4 linked regions of the Homo sapiens genome follow. The protein of the gene in region 3 interacts with the protein of the main gene of each other region in a pairwise test. Each region holds a gene or a part of one and is shown on either strand. Other genes may lie near its edges.

Evidence for each region.
Region 1: the proteins of TEX11 (region 3) and CEP85L interact in binary tests that used the Homo sapiens proteins (3 or more experiments, as listed by UniProt).
Region 2: the proteins of TEX11 (region 3) and COL20A1 interact in binary tests that used the Homo sapiens proteins (3 or more experiments, as listed by UniProt).
Region 4: the proteins of TEX11 (region 3) and RIBC1 interact in binary tests that used the Homo sapiens proteins (3 or more experiments, as listed by UniProt).

The regions. Positions count from the first base shown.
Region 1 is NC_000006.12:118,648,564-118,655,958, forward strand, and holds the start of CEP85L (centrosomal protein of 85 kDa-like), read right to left. Parts: upstream 3,029-7,395; 5' UTR 2,707-3,028; coding exon 2,634-2,706; intron 1-2,633. UniProt on the Homo sapiens protein: Plays an essential role in neuronal cell migration.
Region 2 is NC_000020.11:63,303,169-63,310,196, forward strand, and holds part of COL20A1 (collagen alpha-1(XX) chain precursor), read left to right. Parts: intron 1-2,248; coding exon 2,249-2,392; intron 2,393-2,712; coding exon 2,713-2,871; intron 2,872-4,321; coding exon 4,322-4,480; intron 4,481-4,802; coding exon 4,803-4,922; intron 4,923-5,373; coding exon 5,374-5,538; intron 5,539-6,164; coding exon 6,165-6,329; intron 6,330-6,586; coding exon of another isoform or gene 6,587-6,589; coding exon 6,590-6,747; intron 6,748-7,028. UniProt on the Homo sapiens protein: Probable collagen protein.
Region 3 is NC_000023.11:70,898,689-70,905,716, forward strand, and holds part of TEX11 (testis-expressed protein 11), read right to left. Parts: intron 1-7,028. UniProt on the Homo sapiens protein: Regulator of crossing-over during meiosis. Involved in initiation and/or maintenance of chromosome synapsis and formation of crossovers.
Region 4 is NC_000023.11:53,425,856-53,431,626, reverse strand, and holds the end of RIBC1 (RIB43A-like with coiled-coils protein 1), read right to left. Parts: intron 5,351-5,771; coding exon 5,234-5,350; intron 3,625-5,233; coding exon 3,543-3,624; intron 3,345-3,542; coding exon 3,000-3,344; coding exon of another isoform or gene 2,965-2,999; exon of another isoform or gene 1,799-2,964; intron 1,774-1,798; coding exon 1,655-1,773; intron 1,232-1,654; coding exon 837-1,231; coding exon of another isoform or gene 833-836; exon of another isoform or gene 721-832; coding exon 639-720; 3' UTR 512-638; downstream 1-511. Other genes in the region: HSD17B10 (3-hydroxyacyl-CoA dehydrogenase type-2), read left to right, coding at 33-223.

The sequences.
Region 1 (7,395 bases), on a different chromosome or scaffold from region 3:
ACCCCGTCTCTACTAAAAATACAAAAAAATAACCCGGGTGTGGTGGCGGGAGCCTGTAGTCCCAGCTACTCGGGAGGCTGAGGCAGGAGAATGGCGTGAACCTGGGAGGCGGAGCTTGCAGTGAGCCGAGATCGCGCCACTACACTCCAGCCTGGGCGACAGAGAAAGACTGTCTCAAAAAAAAAAAAAAAAAAACTAAAGTGGTTCTATAGTACCTTTGGCTTTTCCTTTAGTCTAGTTATATATTTGTATAAACAAATAAACCAGTTTCAGGACAGCTTGAATTAATCCACATATTAAGATAAACTCATTTTAATACCAGAAATTATTTACTTATCCCTGCCTTCACACTTTGTTTTCAGACAAGTCCAATTTTAGGGCTGGAATAATTGCTCAAATTATTCAAAAGATATACTGAACAATATTTCAAAAATAAAAATTTCCTTCCAATTATCAGGAAAAAAGGTCCCTACATGAATCAACTCAGAGGTCATTATCTTGACCTTCACCATCTGCTCACTTGCACAAGAAGCAACACAAGTTTTTCATCTAAGGTAGAACTTTTTAAAACTTAAAATTATCTAAGATAATTTTAAATATTTATATTTGCTCAAAAAGGGAAGAAACACAATAAATAATTACATTACTATTTCAGCATGTAACTGAAAAAAAACTTTACAAAGGCATGTCCTGACTTGTCAATAGTTTATTACTGACAAATTGAGATAAAATACATACTTTGGTACAGCTATACTGTCCAAATTTCTTCAATTAGGGTAGTAATTACAAAGTATCCTCTTCCACTATTATTCTATGCCATAGCAAATGTCTCTCTAGAGGCTGCAACATAACAAAGTCCTTCGTTACCTAACTTTAAATACTAAAATGTTCTCTTCTTCCTAGAAAACAATGAAAAATAGACACCATGCCTCAGTGATATACCTCCAAACAAGCTGCTATTATCACGAATAAATTTTAATAGGTTAGATTGCAAAGACATTACAGATGGCTTTTGACATTTTCAGATAAACTGAAACCACTCCCTCCAGCCCCTAGGGATAATGAAGTAGCTTCTCAATCACTGAAGTTACTTAGATGACAGGATTTGTGAATAATCTGTAAACTCGGGAAACCTCTGAACTGTCTCCTTAGGACAAATAACATACAATTTAGAAAAAAAAAATCCCTACTTAATACTGCTTTTTACTAAATTCATGCCTACATTAAATTTCAGGATCAAACTTAAGTGAATGATTCAAATCATTCATTAACATACATTAAGTGTTTCAGGACCAAACTTAAGTGAATGATTCAAATCTAACTCTGGCTTTTTAAAATGTACATATGTCTTTTTAAAAACCACACATCACAAATATCTAAACTATCAAAGAATTGCATTATTCGAAATTTCAATAGCCTGATACTAGTGACTCGGTCAGTGCCTGATTTTTTTTAAATAGCAGAAAATATTACCATCAAAAGACCCCTTTCCAAATGCTGCTTCTGCTTTTTTGTTTTGTAAATAACAGCTTTGGAAATGTATGCAAAAATATCTCTAAGTTACACAAGTCGAGCTCAAACACTTTGTGGAGCAAGGTTACTTAACAGGAGTCCCAGAAACAGCTAAAATTGTAGGGAAAATTTTGCGTATGTATATATGGCATTGTTTTTTCTGCGCAGAATGTCCATATAACTCAGTTTCTCAAAAGGCCTCAAAACTCAAGATTAAAAGTGCCTGGAAAGACCATCATCTTTAGAGAACATATCACAGGCAACCCAAGACTTATTTTTTATCCCAAGTTAGGGGAGGATTTATCCTAATTTTGTGGCTCCTACACAACTTCTGAGCGACGCAAGCATGAAATGGCTGTCCGATACAAACAGACCCCTTCAGATACGGAATGCAGCAAACCCCTAATTTTCCTTGAAGGGGCCACGGAAAGCCAAACGGATTCGTAACCCGGTTGCTCAATGGTCCATTGGCTACTGCAGGACGCGCCCTCCTCTTACGCCGCAGGGGCTGCGGGGCGGCGACCAGGTTCCTCCGAGGGGCTGAAGTTCCCTTGGGGGTGGCTGAGAGCGGCCGCATCTCTGGCAGCATCCTCCCTCCCGAAAACGCGCCCTAAAAGTAGCGGCTGCGGGCGTGGGCACAGCCAACCCCAGCCTGCGCCTACCAGAAGTCGGGAGGGCGCGGAACTGCGGCCCCTCCGAGACGCGCCCGGGCCGCCGCCGCAGCACTGTCGCAGCGACCTTCCCGCCCGGGTCCCCGCGAGCAAACGGGCAAGCCCCGTTATCACGCAGGTCACACACCCCACGAGTAAAAGGAAAAAACCGGGCAGACAATAAAGCCCAACCCGCGGGGGCCCAAGCGAGCTGGAAGTTGGGGGCGCTGGGGCTGCAGCCCAAGGAGGAGCGGCGGGGACGACGGGATGCGGGGCTGATGCGCCTGGGACGCGGCAAGCCATATGTCAGCCCGGGTGCTGACAGCGGGGAGGACACTGGGCACGCGGCGGCGTCGGGGAGGCGGCCGGGGTAAGACAGGCCTGAGGCGGGAGGGGAGCGGCGGCGAGGTCCCGAGGCGCCGCGGTCGGCCGTGACCCCCACCCCAGCCGGGGCGCTGTCCCGTTCCTTACCGGCAGGGAAGCTGCGGGCTCCGCCGGGGCTATCCCGGCCGCTGGCCTCCGGAGCCAGGAAGCGCCCCCACATCGCGGGCGAGAGGGCCGGGTGGGCCAGGGACGCCCGACTCCTCACGTCCGTCCTCCTGCTTCTTCGGCGGCGGAAACTTGCGCGGAGCGTGGGCCTCGGCGACACGGGCAGGAGGAAAGGCGGGATGGCTGGTTAACGGCTGCTCAGCTACGGGCGGGGAGCGCAGGGGCCAGATTCGCCGCACTGCCGGCGCCTGCCATGGCCAAGCCGGCTGGGCTGAGGCCCGCGCCGGGGAAGCGGCGACTCGGCGGTGACGGCTGCTAGATCCCCGGCTGAGCCCAGGCTCAAAGGCTCCAGGCGAAGTTGCAGCTGCGGGTTCTCTCCGCCCCCTCCGCCGGCAGAGCCAGAGCCGGGGCTGGGGCCGCGAGGGGGCGGGGCCTCGGGCAATGACTTCAGGCGTGCGCGGCGCCGCGCGGGGCGGGGACTGCGGGGGGCGGGGACTGCGGGGGGCGGGTGAGCTACCCCGACCCCGCTTCGCCTCCTTGGCGGCGACTGGGCTGTCCCGCCCTCCCGCCGCATCCCTCTGTCTCCATCCTCCCGCCCTGCGAGTTGAGTAGAGGGCAGCGACTTGGCCTATTTTGCGATACTCGCCCCTCCCTTGGGTAATCCCTCACGCCCTCCCTCCGGGCACCTCTGTGAAGACACGTGGAAGACCTGCCCCTGGCGTCACAACCGCTCGAGATGAAAAAGCCAAGCCAGGGCGCGGCTGAGGGGGCTTCCAGCCTCCCTTGGAATTAGGATTGGGATTTAAATCCTCATCTGTATTCCTTCGTTTATAGATTACTTTAGGGGCAGAAAAGGGGTGGTTTTCCTTTACTAATTTAATGGGGGCGTGGGGGCAACACAGGCACCAGAATATAGCACCGGGATGTGCACCGGAAAAGGCCCGGGGGTAATTAGTACCCGAGGGGGAGAGGGGCCGTCATTGTAATCGCACAACGTTTCAGATTAGCAAGCAGAAAGTAAAAATGGCACCAAAGTCTGTAAAGGGAGCCCTTTCCTCCTTGCCCCCTACTCCTTCACGTTCTTCCTCTTCTTGGCCAGTTTCCACCCTTCACCTGAACCCTTAGTGCAGGAGGAGACGTCCTAAGGAAGGGCGAAAAGGGACAGCATCGTTTTATTTTTAAATCTTACTTCTCACTGGCAATATGGTGATGCTTCCAACGTTTAGTTACGAACTAGTTCGTATAAAAAATTCTGGGCCAGCACTGTGGTGGGAGGCGGGCTCTGCAGTAGGCCCATCACTCAGAGGTAAGTCGGAACGCAGGTCGCTTAACTAGAGAGGCTTTGAGTTCCGCTTTTCCTGTTCTGGAATCTTGCTAACAAAGGCCTCATATTTGCATTTTTCCCTTAAAGACATTTTAATTGGGAAATACTACTTAAAATTCTTGGAAGTTAAATTAGATTTAGGTGTGTGTTCTATCACTTACCACATCCGTGTTGTAATTTATCTGATTGGAGTTTTACATTTAGTCTCCCTGTGGTAGACTTCCAATTATTTCTCCAAATCATGTAATGTTAGCCAAGGGTCAGCTGTTTCTGATGATAAAAAGATACAGAAACATGAAAGACGAATGTGATTGGTTCCTTTTTATTATTTTAATGTGCACTAGCTCGTTTTATCTAACACTTGAAGAGGATAGATTTTTTTAAGTCCCAAAAAGAAAATTAGCAGAAGCTATAGCACTATGTATAGATTTTTTTTTCATGCTTTGTAGTTACCACAGTCTCAGGAACAGAATTTTTGAAATTCATTTGTGATGCAGTTCTAAGAAGTGTATAAAATATTACAGAAATATCTTGGCCTTTGCGAGTTTAAAATACACTTATTATTTCAAAACTGCCAATTTCCTAATTCTAAACAGTGTTTAAAGAAAATCGTTTACTCGGGTTTTCTACATCTTTTTATCAATATAAAGGGCATGCTACTACACACAAAAAAAGTACATGCGAAGGTGAAAGTATCTAAAATATTTCAATATCTATTACAGAGTAAAAGCAAACAGTAAAAACATGTTGCTCTTTTGGCACTTGGCACCAAATATGAAATTTTTGTGTCCCTAGTAATTAAACTTGGGAGGATAGAGGGCTAATGCAATTAGAACTAATTGAAATACTAAGTGAGAATATTATGTTGCTAAAGTATCCATTTCTTTTAATCATATGAATTCTGAGTATATACTGAACTAATGCTTCCCCCCAAATCCATGATACATGGATGATATGTACATGGTATGATACAGCCATGGTTTTCAGAATGATTAAAATTTATCATAACACAAGTTGGAGAACCTAAGGACTATCTAACCATTACTAAACCCCATGTGGTAAACTGCCATATTTTTGTTTTGTTGTGACAGTGTGTTAGGACTACAAGGAGAATTTTAAAAGCAAAGACAGTTATCGTTGAACCTCAATAAACCTCAATCTTGGCAGTTGTTCTGTGCAGATATAAGTAATGAAAATAGTGACTCTGTGTATGTGTGTGTGTGTGTGTGTGTGTGTGTATAAGTATCATTGCTCAGATGAAATTAGGATATTTAATGTTTTGGGAGGGGACTTTTTAAGAATATAAACTAGATCACAAAAGAAGAAAATAGTACTAAAAATGCCACATTTAATACCAAACTATATTAAACTATTTGTTTAAAATGTCTCATTTCAAAAAAAGACATTATTTAAAACTGAAAAATAAGTGTTGCATTTATAATTCTTAAATTTGTATATAAATCTTTGAACTGATTAAGTTGAGCTATCTTACATGTGTTTTTCTGATTCAAATTTATCAGATTGTGCAAACATCATCTACAGAACTGAAGAGGGATATGACAATGAATAAAAGTGATATTTTTAAATTAGAAGAGCCAGGTGCAGTCACTCATGCCTGTAATCCAGTGCTTTGAGAGACCAAGGCAGGAGAATCACTTAAGCCCAGGAGTTGGAGGCTGTAGTGAGCTGTAATGATTGTGCCACCGCACTCAAGCCTGGGCAACAGAGCAAAACCCTGCCTCTAAAAAATAAATAAAATGAGAAGGAAACCCCATGCATAATATGAGGAAAGCTCAAGAGAGCTTTATATTTACAAAAATATAAAATATATAAATAGCAAAAGAACCCAACAATATGTAGGAAAAGTAAACCAACCAATAACAATTGAAATAGTTCCTAAAGAACTATTGCTACTACATAGAAAGAGATTTATGAATGAATTCTAAAAGATTCCAAGGACTAGACAATTCTTGTATATCAAGTGTGTATCAAGGACCATGCTATACAACCTCTTCCAGATCACAAAGGTGACAAGTTATCCAATTATTTGTGGATTGTTGTAATCCCAAAAATCATTTATAATTTAAAAAAACACTCTTTCTTTTGAAGATGGATTTGACTATCTTAATTGGATCCCTGGCAGGTAGAATTCAAATAGGTGAATGGAAAACAAATAGGTTACTTAACCTGTGCCTCAATTCCCTTACCTGTAAATTGGGGATTATAATGATAACTGCCTCACAGGATTGCTGTGGGGTTTAAACATGTTAATCTTTGTAAAATAGTTAGAACAGTGTATGTGTACATCCTATATTGGTAATACAGACAAACATACAATTTAGAAATGTAACTGTTATAGCTCACCAAGAAAAAATAACATTCATTGGTATAGGCCAGGTCAGTTGTAGATGATAATTTATATACATGTATCAGAATAAAGTAGTGACTGGGATCTTTTCCTGACCCTTTGGGGTTACTAATTAGTCCAGGAATTATGGTGAAATAGTACACTCTTAACAAATATATACCAAATTTTTGGGAGCCAAGTTCATAGAAACCTTCATTCTAGGCTGTGATTTCCTACCCAGTGCTACCAAAATAAAGGAAGGAAAATTAGGGAGAGGTAGCTAGGTGGTATGGCGAGGCCAAGACAAGGACACCTTATCTCAAGTCCCTGATTCCTGGGAGGTACAGAAAATGAATCTCACCTGTACCTTTGACTCCAGAGTTGGGTTGCAATAACCAATAAGAAAGAAGGTATGATATGGACCACTGAAGCAGTCCTTGGGATAGGAAGTGGGTGTGGGAGGGATAGAATTCTGCCAACAGATGAAGTCTTCCAAAGGACCATCAATGTTTTCAGGAACTGCTTAGGACTGACATCTTTGTCAATGGAACTTATTATGGTAACCACCTGGTCATCCTGAGCGTATGAAAAGAGACAAGATCATTTACTTGTTTGGGACAGCAACCTGGACAGTGCATAAGAAGACAAATTCTTCCCTCCCTGCCTGCTTTTTCAGACACTGGAACAGTAAATAGAAGGTTGGAAGTGTGGATTCAAGAAAGCAGATCATGCCTTCACACACAAACCCACACACAGCCTCCTACCTGACCTGCCCTGGTGGGGAAGAGGACTGTTGAAAGCTGAAAATGTTCAAAATGTTGGGGAATTGGATTGAGATGTACTCAGTGGAAAAGGGGATTTTCAACAGTGTACAGCTGGCAGTGTTATTGGGGGAGAAAAAACTTTGAGTATATACTTCCAATGATTTGAGACTTCTCACTAAACCAGTTACCTATTTTATGTTGAGTAGTTAGTAATACCTCCATTTTACAGATGGGGAAAAAAGACCAAAGAGAAGTTAGGGAAGGTCACACAGGAAGTAAAGAGCTAGAATTCAAATCTGATCCATGTGA
Region 2 (7,028 bases), on a different chromosome or scaffold from region 3:
GGCAACGCTAGGACCTTAGAACATCACAATAATATTTATCCCATTTTCAAGCACTTGTGTTTATTTATTGATTTTTGAAATGGGGTCTCACTATACTGCCCAGGCTGGACTCAAACTCCTGGGCTCAAGTGATTCTGCCACCTCAGCCTCCCAAGTAGATGGGATTACAGGCATGCCCGGCTTTTAAAATTCTATATTTATATTAAATGTCATAAAACTTTTTCATTATTGTCATTGCTTGTTAATCACGTGTTTGTGCAGGAAGCCTTGGGAATATGACAGACCTGGGCTTCTATCCCACTTCTACTGCGGAGTAGCTGTGTGATTGGTCCTTTGTGCCTCAGTTTTCCTATCTATAAAATGGGTGTAATGGAGTTGTGAAGATTATGAGGCTTGATACCTGTGAAATGCTTAGGATACTGCCAGGCACACAGTGAAAACTCAATAACAGTTAGCTGTTGATGGTAATGACAACACCCCTGCCTCCCATTTGCTCAGCCAAGAACAGAGGGTCCTCCCTGGCTGGTCACTCCCTGGCGCGGGGCTGGGTAGGGCTGTGGGGAGCCACTCACTGCACAGGGAGGATGGTGTCCCTTTTCTTTCCAGGTGTGCAGGTGTGGGTTCCTCCCTCCCTTCCTCCCTCCCTCCCTCCAGGTGTGCAGGTGCTGGCTCCTCCCTCCCTTCCTCCCTCCAGGTGTGCAGGTGTGGGTTCCACCCTCCTCTTCTCCCTGCAGGTGTGCAGGTGTGGGTTCCTCCCTCCTCTTCTCCCTGCAGGTGTGCAGGTGTGGGTTCCTCCCTCCTCTTCTCCCTGCAGGTGCGCAGGTGTGGGTTCCTCCCTCCCTTCCTCCCTCCAGGTGTGCAGGTGTGGGTTCCTCCCTCTCTTCCTCCCTCCCAGTGTGCAGGTGTGGGCTCCTCCCTCCTCTTCTCCCTCCAGGTGTGCAGGTGTGGGTTCCTCCCTCCTCTTCTCCCTCCAGGTGTGCAGGTGTGGGTTCCTCCCTCCCTTCCTCCCTCCAGGTGTGCATGTGTGGGTTCCTCCCTCCCTTCCTCCCTCCAGGTGTGCACGTGTGGGTTCCTCCCTCCCTTCCTCCCTCCAGGTGCGCAGGTGTGGGTTCCTCCCTCCCTTCCTCCCTCCAGGTGTGCAGGTGTGGGTTCCTCCCTCCTCTTCTCCCTGCAGGTGCGCAGGTGTGGGTTCCTCCCTCCCTTCCTCCCTCCAGGTGTGCAGGTGTGGGTTCCTCCCTCCCTTCCTCCCTCCAGGTGTGCAGGTGTGGGTTCCTCCCTCCCTTCCTCCCTCCAGGTGTGCAGGTGTGGGTTCCTCCCTCCTCTTCTCCCTGCAGGTGCGCAGGTGTGGGTTCCTCCCTCCCTTCCTCCCTCCAGGTGTGCAGGTGCTGGCTCCTCCCTCCCTTCCTCCCTCCAGGTGTGCACGTGTGGGTTCCTCCCTCCCTTCCTCCCTCCAGCTGCGCAGATGTGGGTTCCTCCCTCCCTTCCTCCCTCCAGGTGTGCAGGTGTGGGTTCCTCCCTCCTCTTCTCCCTGCAGGTGCGCAGGTGTGGGTTCCTCCCTCCCTCCCTCCCTCGAGGTGTGCAAGTGTGGATTTCTTGCCCTTTTCTCCCTTGCCTTAGCACTTGAGACCCAGAGAATCACCCAGTGCTCACAGTGCCTCTCCAGGTCTGACTGCTGCCTCCTGAGTGCTCTTTCAAGGCCATTTCTTCTTGCTCTTTCCTCTGAGAATATGGCAGTGTCCCCTTTGGAATCATTTGTTTGCTTTTCACACTTGAAATCCAGACCTAACTTTAGAATCATGGAGTCACACAGCAGAAAATACTTGCGGCTGGTCGGTCCGTGCAGCCCATAGGGTAGGAGCCTGTGGGAGTGGGCAGGGCCCTGGCCCCGGACTCTTCCTTCTTGGACCTGGCCCCTCGGGTCGTCATCCCCTCCCTGGGCAGCCCTGTCTTCATACCTTGACAGTATCTCTGAGGGTTGATGGCTTCTCACCTCACCATGCGGCGGATTCCTCTAGGGGGGTTTAGTAAGTGACATCTTCTTTTCACCGCCCCAAGACCCCCATTCTCTGTCACATTATTACCCAGGAGCCCATGTCCCTTCCATCAGACCCTCTCCCTTTCTGTCTCTCTGGCTTCAAGGGGAGCAGCTGGGGTGGGGAGGAGGAGCCAAGAGGGTTTCACTCCCCGCCGTGACAGATGCACACACGTGTGCACCTTGGCCTCTAAAGCTCTCCCCACCCCTACCCAGGGGACTCGGAACAGGAGGTGATACTGACCACCAAGACCCCTAAGGCCACAGTGGGGGGCCTGAGCCCCTCCAAGGGCTACACCTTGCAGATCTTCGAGCTCACTGGCTCTGGGCGCTTCCTGCTAGCTCGGAGGGAGTTTGTGAGTAAGTCCACCGTCTGCCAGCTGGGTACCCACTCCTCCAGGCCGGGTCCCACCCTCCTCTGGGCTGGGGTCCCACCCTCCTCCAGGCTGCGTTCCAGCCCCAGGGGTGGGTATGTGTGAAGCAGTTCTGGGCTGTGCTAGGGGCAGGTTCAAGTCCCGACTCACCAGCAAGGCTGCCTTGCCCCTGACATCTTTGCATGCCTCCCAGGCTCCTGGGCCCTCAGCACCCACAGATGCGCCCTTGAAGGGGTGTATGTGCAGCTGCCCCAGTGGACCAGGCCCTCCACTCCCACCCTGATGGCTCTTTGTGTCTCCCTGCAGTTGAGGATCTGAAGAGTAGCTCCCTGGACAGGAGCAGCCAGAGGCCCCTCGGCTCTGGAGCCCCGGAGCCCACCCCCTCCCACACGGGGAGCCCAGACCCTGAGCAGGCTTCTGAGCCCCAAGTTGCCTTCACACCAAGCCAGGATCCGCGCACTCCTGGTGGGTCAGAGTGGAGAGAGAGTAAGTCTCCGGGGAGGGAGTGACCTTTGGTTTCCCACATTTCCCACCATGAGGCCAGGAAGTTCTTCCTCGTGTCTGACCACACGGTCTCTGACCACGAGGCCAGGAAGTTCTTCCTCGTGTCTGACCACACGGTCTCTGACCACGAGGCCGGGAAGTTCTTCCTCGTGTCTGACCACACGGTCTCTGACCACGAGGCCGGGAAGTTCTTCCTCGTGTCTGACCACACGGTCTCTGACCACGAGGCCGGGAAGTTCTTCCTCGTGTCTGACCACACGGTCTCTGACCACGAGGCCGGGAAGTTCTTCCTCGTGTCTGACCACACGGTCTCTGGCTTTAACTTAAAGTTGCCATGTTCCCAGGTTCACTCAAGCCAGGCCACTGGGAGCAGGTGGTCCCACTACCTCTGACCCCTTTGGGAACCTCCAGCCTGGGTCTAGGGGGTGGTGAGAGGGGTGGGTCATGCTCCCCCAGGAGTGGGATCAGGAGCAGAGCTGGTCCGGGGGCCCTGGAGGGAGGGCCCTGCCCAGCCGGCCCCAGGCGTGGAGAGGTAGAGCCACACCAGGACAGAAGAGAAGCCAGGTAAGGGGTGGGCACAGACGGGGGCAGTGCACTGTGTCTGCCCATAAGGCCCCCGTAGGCAGGGCTGGGCTTCCCCATAGAACTGGGAGGGCCTGGCTTTGTCTCCTCCATCAGACTGGGGTCCTCAGAAGCAGGATTCTACCTCCCCCGTCAGACTTGGAACTGAAGGAAGTGTTCTCCTCAGACTTGGGCATATCCCCTCCAGAGGGTCCTCGGGTCCGCTGCTGTCCTCCCCTCAGGGTGCTGGGCTCTGCTGGGTCCCCTGGACTTGGGCTCCCCCAGGGGAGTGTCCCCACCCATGCAGGCCTCAGGGCAGCTGGGCCTCTTCGGTCGCCCCACGGGGGGCTCCACCGTGATGGCTGCTGGCCTCGTTCAGGCATCTCCCCGGGGGTCTGGCCCTGGCTCTGGGGCCCGCCTCACCAGGCACTGCTCCTGCAAAACCCCGGGGAGCGCCAGACCGGGGATGGCGGCTTTGCCTCCACAGCGCCGCGCTGCGGTGCTCACGGCGGCTCTGCTGGGGCTCTTTGTGGTGCCCACCCTCCCCTCCTTGCCTGGTTTGCACCTGGTGGGCTTCTGGGCCTGATGTCTGGGCGGGCAGCTGCATGCAGCCGTGGAGGGCAGAGGTGCCCGAGCACCAGGCTGCCTCACATTAGCGGTGGCTCGATGTGCAGCCGTGCCGGTGTGGGGCTGTCTAGTCCGGTGAGGCCTGAGGGCCTTGGAGTCCTTTCCCCTGAAACCTGGCCCAGCCTGCCTCACTCTTGTGGCTGGAGCCCCGGGGTAGGTGATCTGGGGGCCTTGGACCAGGGATGGGCCTCACCTAGCACCTGACCCGCTCCCACCGCCCCAGCCGGCCCCCAGTTCCGCTGCCTGCCCCCCGTGCCTGCTGACATGGTCTTCCTGGTGGACGGGTCCTGGAGCATTGGCCACAGTCACTTCCAGCAGGTCAAGGACTTCCTGGCCAGTGTCATCGCACCCTTTGAAATCGGGCCGGATAAGGTCCAAGTAGGTGGGTGCTGGCCCGGCCCGCCTCCTGCCCCACCCGGGTGTGGTCCCCACAGCTCTGCCAGAGGAGGCTGTGACCTGTGGGGGTCCCCGTACCAGCCAGGGCTCTCACCTTGTGGGGTGGGACGCCTGCTCCACATGGGGTGTTCTGGGGACCCCTCCGTGTGGAGGCCCTGGCTCTGCAAGCGTCCTCTCCCTGGGGACTGGCTACTGTGGCCAGGTGACCCCACAGAGGCACGTGCAGCTCTCAGGTGTGGCCTTGTGCCAAGCTCCCTGGGCATCTCAGCATTGGAAACTCAGCCCGTGGCCATGCCCCTGCTCCCCAGGCCTGACTCAGTACAGCGGGGATGCTCAGACTGAGTGGGACCTGAACTCCCTCAGCACCAAGGAACAGGTGCTGGCAGCTGTGCGCCGCCTCCGCTACAAGGGGGGGAACACGTTCACAGGTACGGCCCAGGCCTGCCCCTCCCTCTGTCCTGAGGGCGGACCTCCTTCTGCCGCCCTCCCAGATCCCGAAAGCTTGTGTGTAAATCGAGCTCCAAGTGGTGTGGACCTGAGCCCTGTTCACACCTTTATAGAGGGCAGAGTCACCCCCTTGTTTACCTTTGATGAAAACGAGGGCCTGTGTCCAGCGCGTGGCTCCTCTGTTCCACATTAGCAGCTCTGGCTGGGTCCACACCCGGCCCAGTCTGGGTGCTCACCTTGCAGGTAGGGTCTGGCTGGGGAACTTGGGGCCCTTCAACAGGTAGACCCTCCCTGCTCCCTTGGGCTGCTGCGGGGCCTCCTGATACCCCACAAGGGAAGGAGAGGAGCATCTCTGCTGTCCGGTTGCTGCCAGCCGAGCACCAGGAGGGGATGCTGGCAGCTGCCTGTCACTTTATTCCTGCTGCTCCCAAGGCCTTGCCCTGACCCACGTGCTGGGGCAGAACCTGCAGCCGGCGGCTGGCCTCCGTCCAGAGGCAGCCAAGGTGGTGATTCTGGTGACGGACGGCAAGTCCCAGGACGATGTGCACACTGCTGCCCGTGTCCTCAAGGACCTGGGCGTGAACGTCTTCGCTGTGGGTGAGCACCATGCGGCTCCCCCGGCCCTGGAGTCTCACCGCCGGGTGGGTTTAGGGTCGCAGCAGGGAGCTTGCATTGGGCACCTGGTCCCTGAGCCCCAGCTTCCACATCTGCGGCACGGAGCTGCACGCAGAGCCAGGCACCGCCTGGCACTCAGAGGCGATGGCACAGGCGGGCTGCTCCTTTCCAATCGCCTGGTGTTTGGTGCCCTCCGTGGAACCACCCCAACCCTCCCCCTGTGGCGTGAACTTCCCTGGTGAGATATTCACTGAGCAGCTCCAGCTGCCCCCTCTGGCCACCATCCCTGTGCCTGGTGACTCCCGCCTGCTGTGCCCTGGCAAGGAGCTTCCTGGCATCCTCCAGGGCCTGGGACTCACAGGCGAATCAACTCTGTCCTGTGGGGAGGAAACCCCAGATTTCGAGGCAGGAGTCCCAGGAGCACAGACCCTTCCTTGATGCCCCCAACCCCTCGGGAGCGCCTGGCCCAGCATGTGGGTGGCAGGTGGGCCGAGTACAGCCCATAGGCCTCTTTACTCCTGACCCAGTCTCCATGGAGACCCCCACCGCAGGTGGCCCCGTCGGGTGACCCCAGTGCAGGCCAACCCCACCTCCCTCCTCACGAGCAGGTGTGAAGAACGCCGATGAGGCTGAGCTGAGGCTCCTGGCGTCCCCGCCGAGGGACATCACCGTCCACAGCGTGCTGGACTTCCTGCAGCTCGGCGCGCTGGCTGGCCTGCTCAGCCGTCTCATCTGCCAGAGGCTCCAGGGTGGGAGCCCGCGGCAGGGCCCAGGTGAGGGGCAGGGTCACCCGCACAGGCTGCAGCCCCCCCGGCTGCTTTGGGCAAAGGGTTGGGGGGACGCTGTGGCTCCCGTGTGGTACCTGAGGCCGGCTCCTGTGGCTCTGAGGGGGTCTGCAGCACCCCCTTACATCTGTCCACAGAAGGGCTGGGGAGCAGCTTTCCTGTCCCTCCTGTGAGTGGCCACCAGGGGGAGCGTGGACACAGCTGCCCGTGCAGTGACCACCTGCCCCCCACTCCCGCTACTCCAGCAGCAGCGGCTCCAGCCCTGGACACCCTCCCTGCCCCCACCAGCCTGGTCCTGAGCCAGGTGACCTCCTCCAGCATCCGCCTGTCCTGGACTCCAGCCCCCCGGCACCCCCTCAAGTATCTGATCGTTTGGCGAGCCTCTAGAGGTGGCACCCCCAGGGAGGTGAGGGGGCCGGTATACAGGGCTCCCCGAGCCGGTCCTCAGCCGTAGTGAGATCTGATAAGCCAAAGGGAGGGCAGGAATAAAGGCCCACAAATAACTGGGTCCAGGCTGAGAAGGGGGTGTCGAGGGGCTGACAGCCCAGGGACTCACTGGGGAGCTGCGTCTGGGAGGCAGCCTGGGATGAGTGCATTTTAGTGGCCGAGGAGGGCAGAGCAGGGGGCGTTCCGAGGGTGCTGGGGTTAGGGTCAGACTCAGAGCGCCTTCTCCCTTTGATTGATCGA
Region 3 (7,028 bases):
TCCGCCTCCCGGGTTCACGCCATTCTCCTGCCTCAGCCTCCCGAGTAGCTGGGACTACAGGTGCCCGCCAGCACACTCAGCTAATTTTTTGTATTTTTAGTAGAGACGGGGTTTCACAGTGTTAGCCAGGATGGTCTCGATCTCCTGACCTCATGATCCACCAGCCTCGGCCTCCCAAAGTGCTGGGATTACAGGCGTGAGCCACGGCACCCGGCCATAAACTGTACTATTCCCCCTAATAGGTGCATACCAGGTGGCATCAGTGATTATCTCACTGATTATCTGTAAGATTTCTGTACAGGCTGTAAAATAAGTATGCTCATGATTCTAAACTATGTGGCCCTGTCTTGGGATATTTCCTAATAACTCTGTCATTCTTAATCTGAGGATCCCATTGTTGTATTTAAAGGAAAAGATAGTTCAGGGAAGATTACAAATAAAGTCCTTTGAGATTCAATGAAAGCCAATTATCTTGACTGAGTTTTACTACTAAACTTTTTAGTCTAGATCTGCACTCTCTAATATGGTAGCAATATATGGCTACTGAGCACTTAAAATGTGGCTAGTTCAAATTGGGATGTGCTTTAATTGTAAAATACACATGGGTTTCAAAGACTTAGTTTAAAATAAGAAAGTAAAATATCTCAGCAATTTTGTATACTGATTATATGCTGGAACAAAAATGTATGAATATGCTGGGCTATAGCATTAAAATTATTATTATATTAAAAATTAATTTCACCTATTTATTTTTACTTTTTAAACGTGATTACTAGAAAATTTTAAGTTACATTTCTAACTCACATTATATTTCTACTGGACAGGGCTGGTATTGAGTATACATTGGAACTATATTCTGAAGACTTGATGAAACAAATTAGCTAATGTCTACCTCCCTAACAATCATCATAAATATAATAGAAAAAGAAAATATAGAGGCTGGGCACCGTGGCTCACACCTGTAATCCCAGCACCTCCTGTAATCTGGAGGCCGAGGCAAGCAGATCACTTGAGCTCAGGAGTTCAAGACCAGCCTGGGCAACATGGCAAAATCCAGTCTTTACAAAACATACAAATATTAGCCAGGCGTGGTGGTGCATACCTATACGTTCATGCCACTGCACTCCAGCCTGGGTGACAAAGAGAGGTCCTGTATTAAAAAAAAAAAAAAAAAAAAAAAAAGGACCAGGTGTGGTGGCTCATGCCTGTAATCTCAGCATTTTGGGAGGCTGAGGCAGGCAGCTCACCTGAGGTCAGGAGTTTCACCATGTTGGCCAGAACAGCCTGGCCAACATGGTGAAACCCGGTCTCTACTAAAAATATTTTTTTAAAAATAGCCAGGAGTGGTGGTGCACGCCTGTAATCCCAGCTACTTGGGAGGCTGAGGCACGAGAATCACTTAAACTTGGGAGGCAGAGGTTGCAATGAGCCGAGATGGTGCAACTGCACTCCAGCCTGGGCAACAGAGTGAGGCTCTGTCTCAAAACAAACAAAAAATTAATTAATTAATTAGTTAAAATAAAAATACAAAAATTAGCCAAGTGTGATGGTGGGTGCCTGTAATCCCAGCTACTTGGGAGGCTGAGGCAGGAGAATCGCTTGAACCCGGGAGGCGGAGGTTGCAGGGTCACAGTGAACAGAGATCGTGCCACTGCGCTCCAGCCTGGGCTACAGAGGGAGACTCTATCTCAAAAAAAAAAAAAAAAAAAGAAGAAGAAGAAGAAAATTGAAAATTTTCTTGAAACAAATGATAATGGAAACACAGCATACCAAAACGTATGGGATACAGAGTGAAGTTTATCACTATGAGTGCCTACATCAAAAAAGAGGAAAAACTCCGAACAACCTAATGATGCATCTTAAACAACTAGAAAAGCAAAAGCAAACCAAACCCAAAGTTAGTTGAAGAAAAGAAATAATAAAGACCAGAATAGAAATAAACGAAATTAAAATGAAAATATATATATATAAAAGATCAGTGAAGCCCAGTAGTGGTGACTCATGCCTATAATCCCAGCAGTTTGGGAGGCTGAGGTGGGTGGATCACTTGAGGCCAGGAGTTCGAGAGCAGCCTGGCCATCACAGCAAAACCCTGTCTCTACTAAAAATACAGAAATTAGCCTGGCATGCCTGCAGTCATAGCTACTCAGGAGGCTGAAGCACAAGAATTGCTTGCGCCTGGGAGGTGGAGGTTGCAGTGAGCTGAGATTATGCCACTGCACTCCAGCCTGGGCAATGGAGTGAGACTCTGCCTCAAAAAAAGAAAGAAAGAAAAATCTAGAAAAAAGGCCAGTAGGCAGGCAGATCGCTTGAGCTCAGGAGCTCAGGAGACCAGCCTGGGAAACATGGTGAAACCCTGTCTCTACCAAAAATACAAAAATTAGTCAGGAATGGTGGCGCATGCCTATATTCCCTCAGGAAACTGAGGCGGGAGGATCGCTTGAACCTAGGAGGATAGCGCCACTGCACTACAGCCTGGCAATAGAGTGAGACCTTGTCTAAATAAATAAATAAATACTTAAAAAAGACTGAGGGATTTGGGGGGCAAAAAGTTCAAAATGAATAACTAGCGTGGTATGAAAGAAAGAAAAAGCAAATTCAGTCTTAGCTATATTATTATCTAAAGAGAAAAATCATCAGTCCTAAATCTAAAGAGAAAGATTACAGGCGTGCATCACTTAAGGACAGGGATACATTCCAGAAATGTGTAATTTGGTGATTTTTGTCATTGTCCCAACATCATAGAGCAGTGGTCCTCAACCTTCTTGGCACCAGGGACCAGTTTTGTAGAAGACAATTTTTCCACGGATGGTGGGGGGATGGTTTCGGGATGAAACTGTTCTACCTCAGATCAACAGGCATTAGTTAGATTTTCATAAGGAGCATGCAACCTAGATCCCTCGTGTGGGCAGTTCAGGCTCCTGTGAGAATCTAATGCCACTGGCCACTGATCTGACAGGAGGCGGAGCTCAGGCGGTAATGCTTGCTGGCCCAGGGCTCATCTCCTGCTGTGCAGCCAGGTTCCTAACAGGCCAGAGACAGGTAATGGTCCGTGGCCCAGGGGTTGAGGACCCCGTCATAGAGTGTACTTACACAAGATGGTATAGCCTACTACACATCTAGGCTATATGGTATAGCCTATTGCTTCTAGGCTACAAACCTATAACTCATGTTACTGTAGTGAATACTGCAGGCAACTGTAACACAATGATAAGTATTTGTGTATTTAAACATATCTAAACCTAGAAAAGGTAAGTAAAAATATAAAAGATTAAAAATGACTGGGTACGGTGGCTCACAGCTGTAATCCTAGCACTTCGGGACACCGAGGAAGGAGGATCGCTTGAGCCCAGGAGTTCGAAACCAACCTGGGCAACATAGGGAGATCCCGTCTCCACAGAAAAATTAAAAATTATCTGGGCATGGTGGTGCATGCCTGTGATTCCCGGCTACTCAAGATGTTGAGGTGGGAGGATTACTTGGGCCCAGGAGGTAGAAGCTGTGGTGAGCCACGATCACACCACTGCACACCAGCCTGGGTGAGAGAGTGAGACCCTACCTCAAATAACATAATAATAAATTTTTATAAGATAAAAAAAGGTACACCTGTATAGGGCACTTACCATGAGTGGAGCTTGCAGACCTGGAAGTTGCTCTGGGTGAGTCAGTGAGTGAGTGGTGAATATATGTGAAGGTCTAGGACATTACTGTACACTACTGTAGACTTTATAAACTCTGCACACTTAGGCTACACTCAGTTTATAAAAGAATATGTTTCTTTCTCCAATAATAAATTTACCTTAGCTTACTGTAACTTTTTTACTTTATAAGCTTTGTTTGTTTGTTTGTTTGAGATGGGGTCTCACTCTGTCACTGGGGCTGCAATGCAGTGGTGCGATCTCGGCTCACTGCAACCTCTGCCTCCCAGGCTCAAGCAATCCTCCCACCTCAACCTATGGAGTAGCTGGGACCACAGAGTAGCTGGAACCACAGGCACGTGCCACCATGCCATGATAATTTTTTGTATTTTTGGTAGAGACAGGGTTTCACCATGATACCCAGGCCAGTCTCGAACTCCTGAGCTCAAGTGATCTGCCCGCCTCAACCTCCCAAAGTACAAACTTTTTAATTATTTTTAACTTTTTAACGCTTTTGTAGTAACACTTAGCTTAAAGCACAAACATTATACAGCTGTACAAAAATATTTTCTTTCTTTATATCCCTATTCTATAAGCTTTTTTCTGTTAACATTATTAATTTTACTTTTTAAACTTTTTGTTAAAAACTAAGACACAAACACATACATTATTAGCCTAGGCCTACACAGGCTCAGGATCATCACTATCACTGTCTTCCACCTCCACGTTTTGTCCCACTGGAAGTTCTTCAGGGGCAATAAAATGCATGGACCTGTCACCTACTGCGATAATAGTGCCTTCTGGAATACCTCCTGAAGGAACTGCCTGAGGCCATTTTACAGTTAACTTTATTTTTTATAAATAGAAGGAGTACACTCTAAGATGATGATAAAAAAATAGTATAAGATAGCATAGTATGGTATAGTGAATACATAAACCAGTAGCATAGTCATTTATTATCACCATCAAGTATTATGTACTGTACATAAATGTACGTGCTATAGTTTTAAACAACTGGCAGCACAGTAGATTTGTTTACACCAGCATCACCACAAACACATGAATAAAGCATTGCTCTACAACTTTATAACAGCTCTGACATCACTAGGGGATAGGAACTTTTCAGCTCCATTAAAATCTTCTGGGACCACTGTTGTATATGCTGTCCTTTATTGACTGAAATGTCATTATGCAGCACATGACTGTATTTTATGCTGATCATATCAAACATAGAGAATTGTGTTCTATTCTGGGTACCACACTTTAAGAAATAACACGAAAAGGATAGAGCATGTTTAAAGGATAGCACACAAAATGATAAGGGGACTAGAAACCAGGTAATATCAGGAATGTTTGAACAAACTGAGAATGCTCAATCTGAAGACACTTTCCGGGGTACAAGATAAGTTATCTTCAAATAGTTGAAGATGACATGCAGAAAAGGAGTTACATTTATTTAGCCCCAGTGGGTGTAATTATCTAGACAAATTTCTATTCCTTCCTGGTCTTGAATTTTTTTTTTAAGACAGGATCTCACTCTGTCACCCAAGCTGGAGCAATCAAGGCTCACTGCAGGCTCCACCTCCTAGGCTCAAGCGATCCTCCCACCTCTGGCTCCTGAGACTACTACAGGCATGCAACACCACATCCAGCTTTTTTTTTTTTTTTTTTTTTTTTGGTGAAGACAGGGTCTCTGTTGCCCAGGCTGGTCTCAAACTCATGGGCTCAAGTATTCCTCCCGCCTCAGCCTCCCAAAGTGCTGCGATTACAGGCGTGAGCCACCAGGCCTGGCCTTGGTCTTGAAAATTTATTGAGATTGGTGATACAAAAAAGACTGGTGTTATGTCAATTCTCCCTAAGAAGGAATGAACTATAGCCATTGCTAAAAGCCATTGGATAGGCTTTTATGCTCCATTTTTATAAAACTTGACTAAAAAGTTTATGTGTGCATAAGAGAAAACTCAAACAGCCAGTAAATCTATGAAAGTACACCAACTTCACTAGTTATCAGGAAAATATAAGTCAAAACAACACCCATGTAAGATGATAACATTTGGGAAAATGAAACTGCCTGAAGAGTATATGGGAACTCTCTGCACTATCTCTGCAACTTTTCTGTAAATCTAAAATTATTCCAAAGTAAAATGGTAAATAAAAATGACAACAGTCTTCAAAATTGTAAAATTTTAAAAGTCTGACAATATCAAATATTAGTAAGGATATGGGGAAAAGGGAGTTTGAATTAAGACCATTTTGGACAGCAATTTGGCAATATCTATAAAGTTAAAGATGCTCATAGCTTTTGACTCAGCAGTTACACTCCCAAATGTAAACTCTAGAACTGCACTGTCCAATATGGTAGCCACTAGCCACATGTGACTATTGAGCACTTGAAATGTGGCTGATCCAAAATGAGATGTGCTTTAAGTATAAAATACATGCCAGACTTCAAAGACTTTGTACCAAAAAATGTAGAATGTAAAATAACTTATTAATAATTTGTATATTGATTATGTTATAATAACATTTTTGATACACTGAGTTAAAAAAATTAGATCATTAAAATTATTTTCATCTGTTTAAACATTTTTAATATGACTACTAGAAAATATAAAATTTTTTGTTTTTGCACCATGTCAGTTGGACGGCACTGCCCTAGAGCCTCACCTACCAGTAGCTCAAGAAATAAATCAAGGCCGGGTGCAGTGGCTCAAGGCCAGGAGCAGTGGCTCTCACCTGTAATCCTAGCACTTTGGGAGGCCGAGGCGGGCAGATTGCCTGAGCTCAGGAGTTCCAGACCAGCCTGGGCAACACAGCGAAACCCCATCTCTACTAAACTACAAAAAATTAGCCAGGCGTGGCGGCATGCACCTGTAGCCCCAGCTACGCGGGAGGCTGAGTCGGAAGAATTGCTTGAACCCGGGAGGCGTGGAAGTTGCAGTGAGCCGAGATCGTGCCACTACACTCCAGCCTGGACGACAGAGTGAGACTCTGTCTCAAAAGAAAAAAAAAATCAGTCAATGTATTGAGGTAGTGAGTCATACCCAGCATTTCTTTTCAGTCAGACCTTTGCTGAATACCCAGCATTTTTTTAATGAGAAAAATAGAATAGAAAATATCATAGTGTACTGCATGTAATGAGGATAAAATTTTGTTTTATTAAACTTTTGACACAGTATGTATGTACTGGGATGTAATCAAAACATTTTCTTGCCATGAGTGGTAGTCAAAGATGTTTTTGAAAGTTTCTGTTAAACTCTCAGAAACACAGTGTTCGTTGTAGCATTGTTGTTTTTAACAGCAAATATTTGAAACCATTTTTATGTCCAACAAAGGAGACTGAATGAATAAATTGTGGTACATTTAGGTTCAATGAAATACTACTCATCA
Region 4 (5,771 bases), about 17 Mb from region 3:
GGTGAGTCTCTGAATTTGGCTATATTGTTTAGGTCTGTTTGGCACCCCACTGCTGACCAGCCTCCCAGAGAAAGTGTGCAACTTCTTGGCCAGCCAAGTGCCCTTCCCTAGCCGACTGGGTGACCCTGCTGAGTATGCTCACCTCGTACAGGCCATCATCGAGAACCCATTCCTCAATGGAGAGGTCATCCGGCTGGATGGGGCCATTCGTATGCAGCCTTGAAGGGAGAAGGCAGAGAAAACACACGCTCCTCTGCCCTTCCTTTCCCTGGGGTACTACTCTCCAGCTTGGGAGGAAGCCCAGTAGCCATTTTGTAACTGCCTACCAGTCGCCCTCTGTGCCTAATAAAGTCTCTTTTTCTCACAGAGTGTAGGCAGTGTTGTGTGCTAGGGGGCCTGGCATGGGGAAGAAATGTGAAGGCTGTGACAGGGTTGGATGCTCAGAGCTCCAGGGTGGGGTGGGAAAGGCAGTACCTTCATAATACTTTGTGTCCTGTTACAACATGTGGACTTGATTTTGAGTGCAGAACTTTATTACCTAGGTTAGAAGGTGGGAGTATGCAGCATTTTTCTCTTTGACTCCTAACCACCTGTGAGCTTGATGGAGGAGAAGGGAGAGAGAGATAGACATCCTGAACTTAGCGGCTGCTGGTGTTAAACTGCTGGTGATACTGGGCTGTAGGTTGATTGGTGTAGATTACTGAATTCAGGTAATCCTGCCTGTGAAAGAAGTCCAGAGGTCTCAGCTGACATGCTTTCCCTCTCTCCATGGTTCCTCACCATCCCTCCTCTCCCTCCCTTGGCATTTATCTCCACCACTACCACCTAGAACTCACTGGGCTTTTTGCTCATTAGCCAGCTGCTGGTTGAAGGATCCTAGACCCCTTTGAAATACAGCACACAATTCCCTCTCCTGCTCTTCTAGCTCCAGCACTGCCTGGGCTGAGCTCATGGTCTGGCTTTTCCATTCAGTATCCAGTGTTTTCTCAGCCTGACGGTGTGCTTGCTTCTTAGAGCGTTGTACTTCCTGCTCTTTCCTGATGGCAGCTTGCTGCTCTGGAGTCATGCCCTTCCAGCAATAGGGCAGGACCCGGTAGGGAGCCATAGGGTGTTGGGCGACCTGGGGGTTTTCAGTCAGTAGGTCACTCGTGCTCTGGTGCTGGATCTCCGCAAGGTTGGCCTTCTGTTCACGCTGACGCTCACAGCGCTGACGCCCAGCCTGCACAGCTGCCTGGTGGAGCCCCCAAATGCAAACATTTGGGTGCCCAACCTCAGGGAACTCTGTCACAGGGGAGGGGGGAACATGGCCCTACTCTTCCATCTCAAGGAGAAAGAACAGATACTGCATGGCCTTTCAATGCCCCTAATATGTGTTGGGGAGAATGGGCAGGGAACTTCTCTGCCTTCAGGAAGCCTTTAGACTGGGAAGCGGAGGATGAGAGGGCAATGTTCTATTCTCAAGTCATCCTGCTTCTGGAGGTGGGGAGAAGTGACTTGTACCCTAAGAGGGGCCTTCAGTGAAGGGGGAGTACTCAGATGAGAGGGCTGATGCTGATTTAAGAGGGGATGTAAGAGGAAGAATATGGCTAAGGTTCTCCAGGATTTTGTTCAGGAGTTGGGGAGAGCCCAAGGTACTGCATGGCTCAGGCCATACCTGCGCTTTGTTGGCGTTGGCCATGGCACACATCATGGCCGCACGACAGGACTCCTCCAGCCTGGCCAGATGGGTGGCCTGTGCATCCATGGCGAGGCGCAGCTGGTTACTGAGCGCATCTACACAGAGAAATATGGCCGGGGTACTGTACTGGCTTGCTCCATTCCTGTTTCACTCATCCAGCCATTTGTTCAGCAAGTTTTGTGTTTGTGTGTGTACGAATGTTTAGGAGGGGGTTAGTGTCCGAGTTGTAGGGATGTGGAAGGAACTAGGTGCAGCAACAACGATTTCTCAAGCGCATAACTAAAAGATGCCTCCAATGGACCTGGGTCCCAATGTCAGTTCTGCTGCTTCTGAGCTGTGTGATTTTGGGTAAATCATTTCATATCTCTGAATCTCAGTCTAAGGGCCATGTGCTGGGTTCTAATGATACCATCGAATTAAATCCTGTCCTCAGAGAACTCCCTGTCTAGTTGGGGACACAGATCAAACATAGACCACAATCTGGCAAGAGCAATGGCAGGGATGTACACAGGGTATTAAGAGGGTTTTGGATGGTGGAAAAGAGGAAGGCTTCCAGGAAGAGGTGATCCTTGAAATACATTTTGTATACAGGCTAAAAGAGCAAAGGGCATTCCAGGCTGAGGGCATGGCATGAGCAAAGGTACTGACAATTTTTTTCTGCTCCAGCCACACTGAGCTCCTTGCTGTTCCTAAGACCTGTCAGACACTGTACTATGCAACTGGGAGATGGGTAGACATGAAAGAGATGGTTCATCTTCAGTAGGCTGACATTTTAGGGAGAAGACAGATATTAAACAAATACTTTCACAATTAGCTACAACTACAATAAGTGGTCCAGCAGAACAGAGTGCTGTAACAGGGTTGATGTGAAGGGTGAACAGTGCAAGTAGATAAGACATGGTCCTTGCCCTTGAAGGGCTTCTTCTAATGGAAGAGAAGGATGTGGCCACAGACAATATCATAATAGTAGCTACTCTATGTGGTATAAATTATTATTCTCATTTTAAAGATGAAGAAACTGAAGCACAGAAGGGAAAATTCATTTGCCCAAACCAGCTAGTAAGTGGCAGAGCCATTAGGTCTGTCTGCACTGTGCTGCCTCCACGTAATGGAGTGCCAAACTAATCAAGAACAATGCTACACTGTCAGTTACTGAAGGAAGTCAGGGAGGTTGGGGTCTGCACAACCTAACATTTCAGCACCAACCCTATGGATAAGTGGACCTCCCCACACAGTTCTGGTCCCCTGGCTGCTGTACTCAGCTTAGGACAGATCCCCACTAGGCCTCAGGTCTCTGAGTCTGGAGGGCCGGGCTGCTTACCTGTATAATTCTCATCAACCTTGGCTTGCTGTTGCTCCTGCTGTTGCCTTTCCAAGTTGTACCTGAACTGCCCCTGCTGCATTCTCAGCCGTGTGTCCCTGTCTAGGTCTTCCCCAGAGAAGTACTGCAGGCTGGCTGGACCAGGATAGGTATTACTGTAACTAAGATAGGTTGGAAGCCCCTTCCAGACTTGGCCTGGATCCCAAAGACTAAATTCACGCCCGTTCTTGAGCTGCTGCTTCTGCTCCCGAAACTCCTGGACTTTCTTGGCCAGCTGACGTGTTCGATCTGCCTCTTCCTTCTCTAACATCTGGACTACCACATCATACTGCACCTGGCTGGTACCTGGGGGTGGTGAGCAAGGATATGGAGAAGATACCCCAGGAGGGACAGAGTCCACTTAGCATGTCCTCTACTCTCAAGGTCCATCCAATTTGTCCCACCACCCCAGGGCCTCAGGCCACAGAGGCAGAACTGCCCTACCTCAGCCCACTCGAGCTCTTTCTTTACACCCTTGTCTGGCCCCTGGCTTTTGGCTTTTACCATAAGCTGCCTCCTTGCTTCTTTCTGCTGCTTCCCGACGCTTTCGGTCTCCCACCTGGTTGTTCAGGGCCTGGACATCCACCTGATCCCAAAGAAAGGAGCACAATCAGAGTAGGGGCCCAGCAGGGGGCCTTCAATGTCCTACCACAAACTAATTAGAATTTACCTGTTTCAGAATCCTGTAGCTCCCCAGTACCTACTGGATAAAGTTCTAGCTCCTGAGCATGGTTTGTAAGCCTCTCCATGGTCTAGCCTCTGCCTCCTTCTCTGGCCTCATCTCTTAGTCCCACCTTACCCTTATGAGCTGTGCTTACAGTTCCCTGAATATCTTAGGCTGTTTTGAACCAATAGCCTTTGCTCAAGCTGCTCCCTCCACTTGGAACACTTTCCTCCCCTCTTTACACAAATTCCAATTTGTCCTTCGAGACCAGCTCAGCCTTCACTTTCCTGACCCCTCAGGCAGGTTCTACTCCTGTAGAATCTAGAACCCACTGTCTACATTATATTGATGTTCGCCTCTCTGTATTCTCTCCTCCACCAGACTGTGAACCCTTTCAGGGCAGAAACTGGGCCTTAGTCATTTTCGTATCCCCACTGCCCAACACAGTGCTTGGCACAGAGCAGGCCCCGAGGAAATGCTTGTCAGCTTGTCAGCTGGATCTCAATCAGAACACTAATACCCTAGCCAACTTCTTACGGCAGGCACTATGCACTGGTTTTCAAAGCTGCCACTCTGTGTTAACACTCACCTGACTTCCTTCAGCCTCATTTTACAGAAGAGGAGCCTGGGGCTCAGAGAAGACAGGTGATTTATCCAAAGCCACACACATAACAGTCAGCAGACCTGGCCTTAAATACTTACGGGGTCTTTTCCAGAATACCATGCTGCATCCCCCCTCTATCCACTCACCTAGCAATCTTTTGTTTCTTAAACTATCAATATTTTCTCTTTTATTATAATTCATTTATCACATTTCAAAATCATACAAAAAGGAATACAGTTTAGTGAGGCGTAAGTGTCCCTTCCATCTCTGTCTCTCAGCCTGGTTAAGTTTCTCAACATAGCCTTGCAGAGATAGTTTAGGTATATGCAGTAATTTTGAGACAGGGTCTCACTGTTGCTCAGGCTGGAGTGCAATGGTGTGATCTCGGCTCACTGTAACCTGCTCCTCCTGGATTCAAGTGATTCTTGTGCTTCAGCCTCCCAAGTAGCTGGGATTATAGGCATGCACAACCACGCCCAGCTAATTTTTGTATTTTCAGTAGAGACAGGGTTTCACCACGTTGGCCAGGCTGGTCTTTAACTCCTGACCTTGTGTGATCTGCTCACCTCAGCCTCCTAAAGTGCTGGGATTACAGGTGTAAGCCACTGCACCCGGACTCCAAATATTCTTTAGGCCTCTTTTAGCTCCATGTTGCCTGTCTCAAGAACCAGGTCACATGGCCCAGAGCTGACTGGAGAAGGGTCAGCCGTCTCCCCTAGTCTCTTCCCCTGCACTGACCTATCCCTCTTCCCAAGCTCTTCCCAGGCCTGTAGGGGTGGGTGCCTTCTCTCCCTCTCTTTCCTTTCCTGCCCTAGGGGCCTACTTGAATCAGGGGAAGGGCTATCATGGGCACTGTTACACATTCCTCTCCAGGTGTAAGAGTGAGGTGGCCCTGATCCTGAGCAACAGTCCCTACTACCCACTCACCCCCATGACTCGGTTCCGCACATTGAAGAATCGGTTTTGTCGCTCTTTTTCTCGATTTCTTCTAGCCTCGATGGCTGCTGCTTCCTTGGTATCTGTTGACTGTTTTATGTTATACATCTGGAGCAAAAGGGAGGTGGAATGGCCCATCAGTGCCGACCACCGTCTTTGACTACACGCCACCCCCATTCCTTTCTCCCTATAATATTTCAGCAGTTATTGATTCCTACTGATTTTACTTCCTGATATATTTCGTATCTGTGCCCTCCATCTCTGCTGTCACCAGCTTAATTCAGGCCTCACAATCTGGTGTCAGGCAGTATCTCAGGAGCCCCACTGGGTTCTCTTGCTCCAACGTTACCCTCTCTGCACTGGATTTCTCTGCACTGGCTACCAGAGTGATCTTTGGGAAGCAAATCTGACCATGGCACTCCTCAGCGTAAAGCCTTTGAAAGCACCTTTAAAGCAATGGCTCCCCAGTGCTTATAAGGCCCAACCCCCTTTGCCAGATTTATAAGGTTCTTCATGATCTGACCCCTGC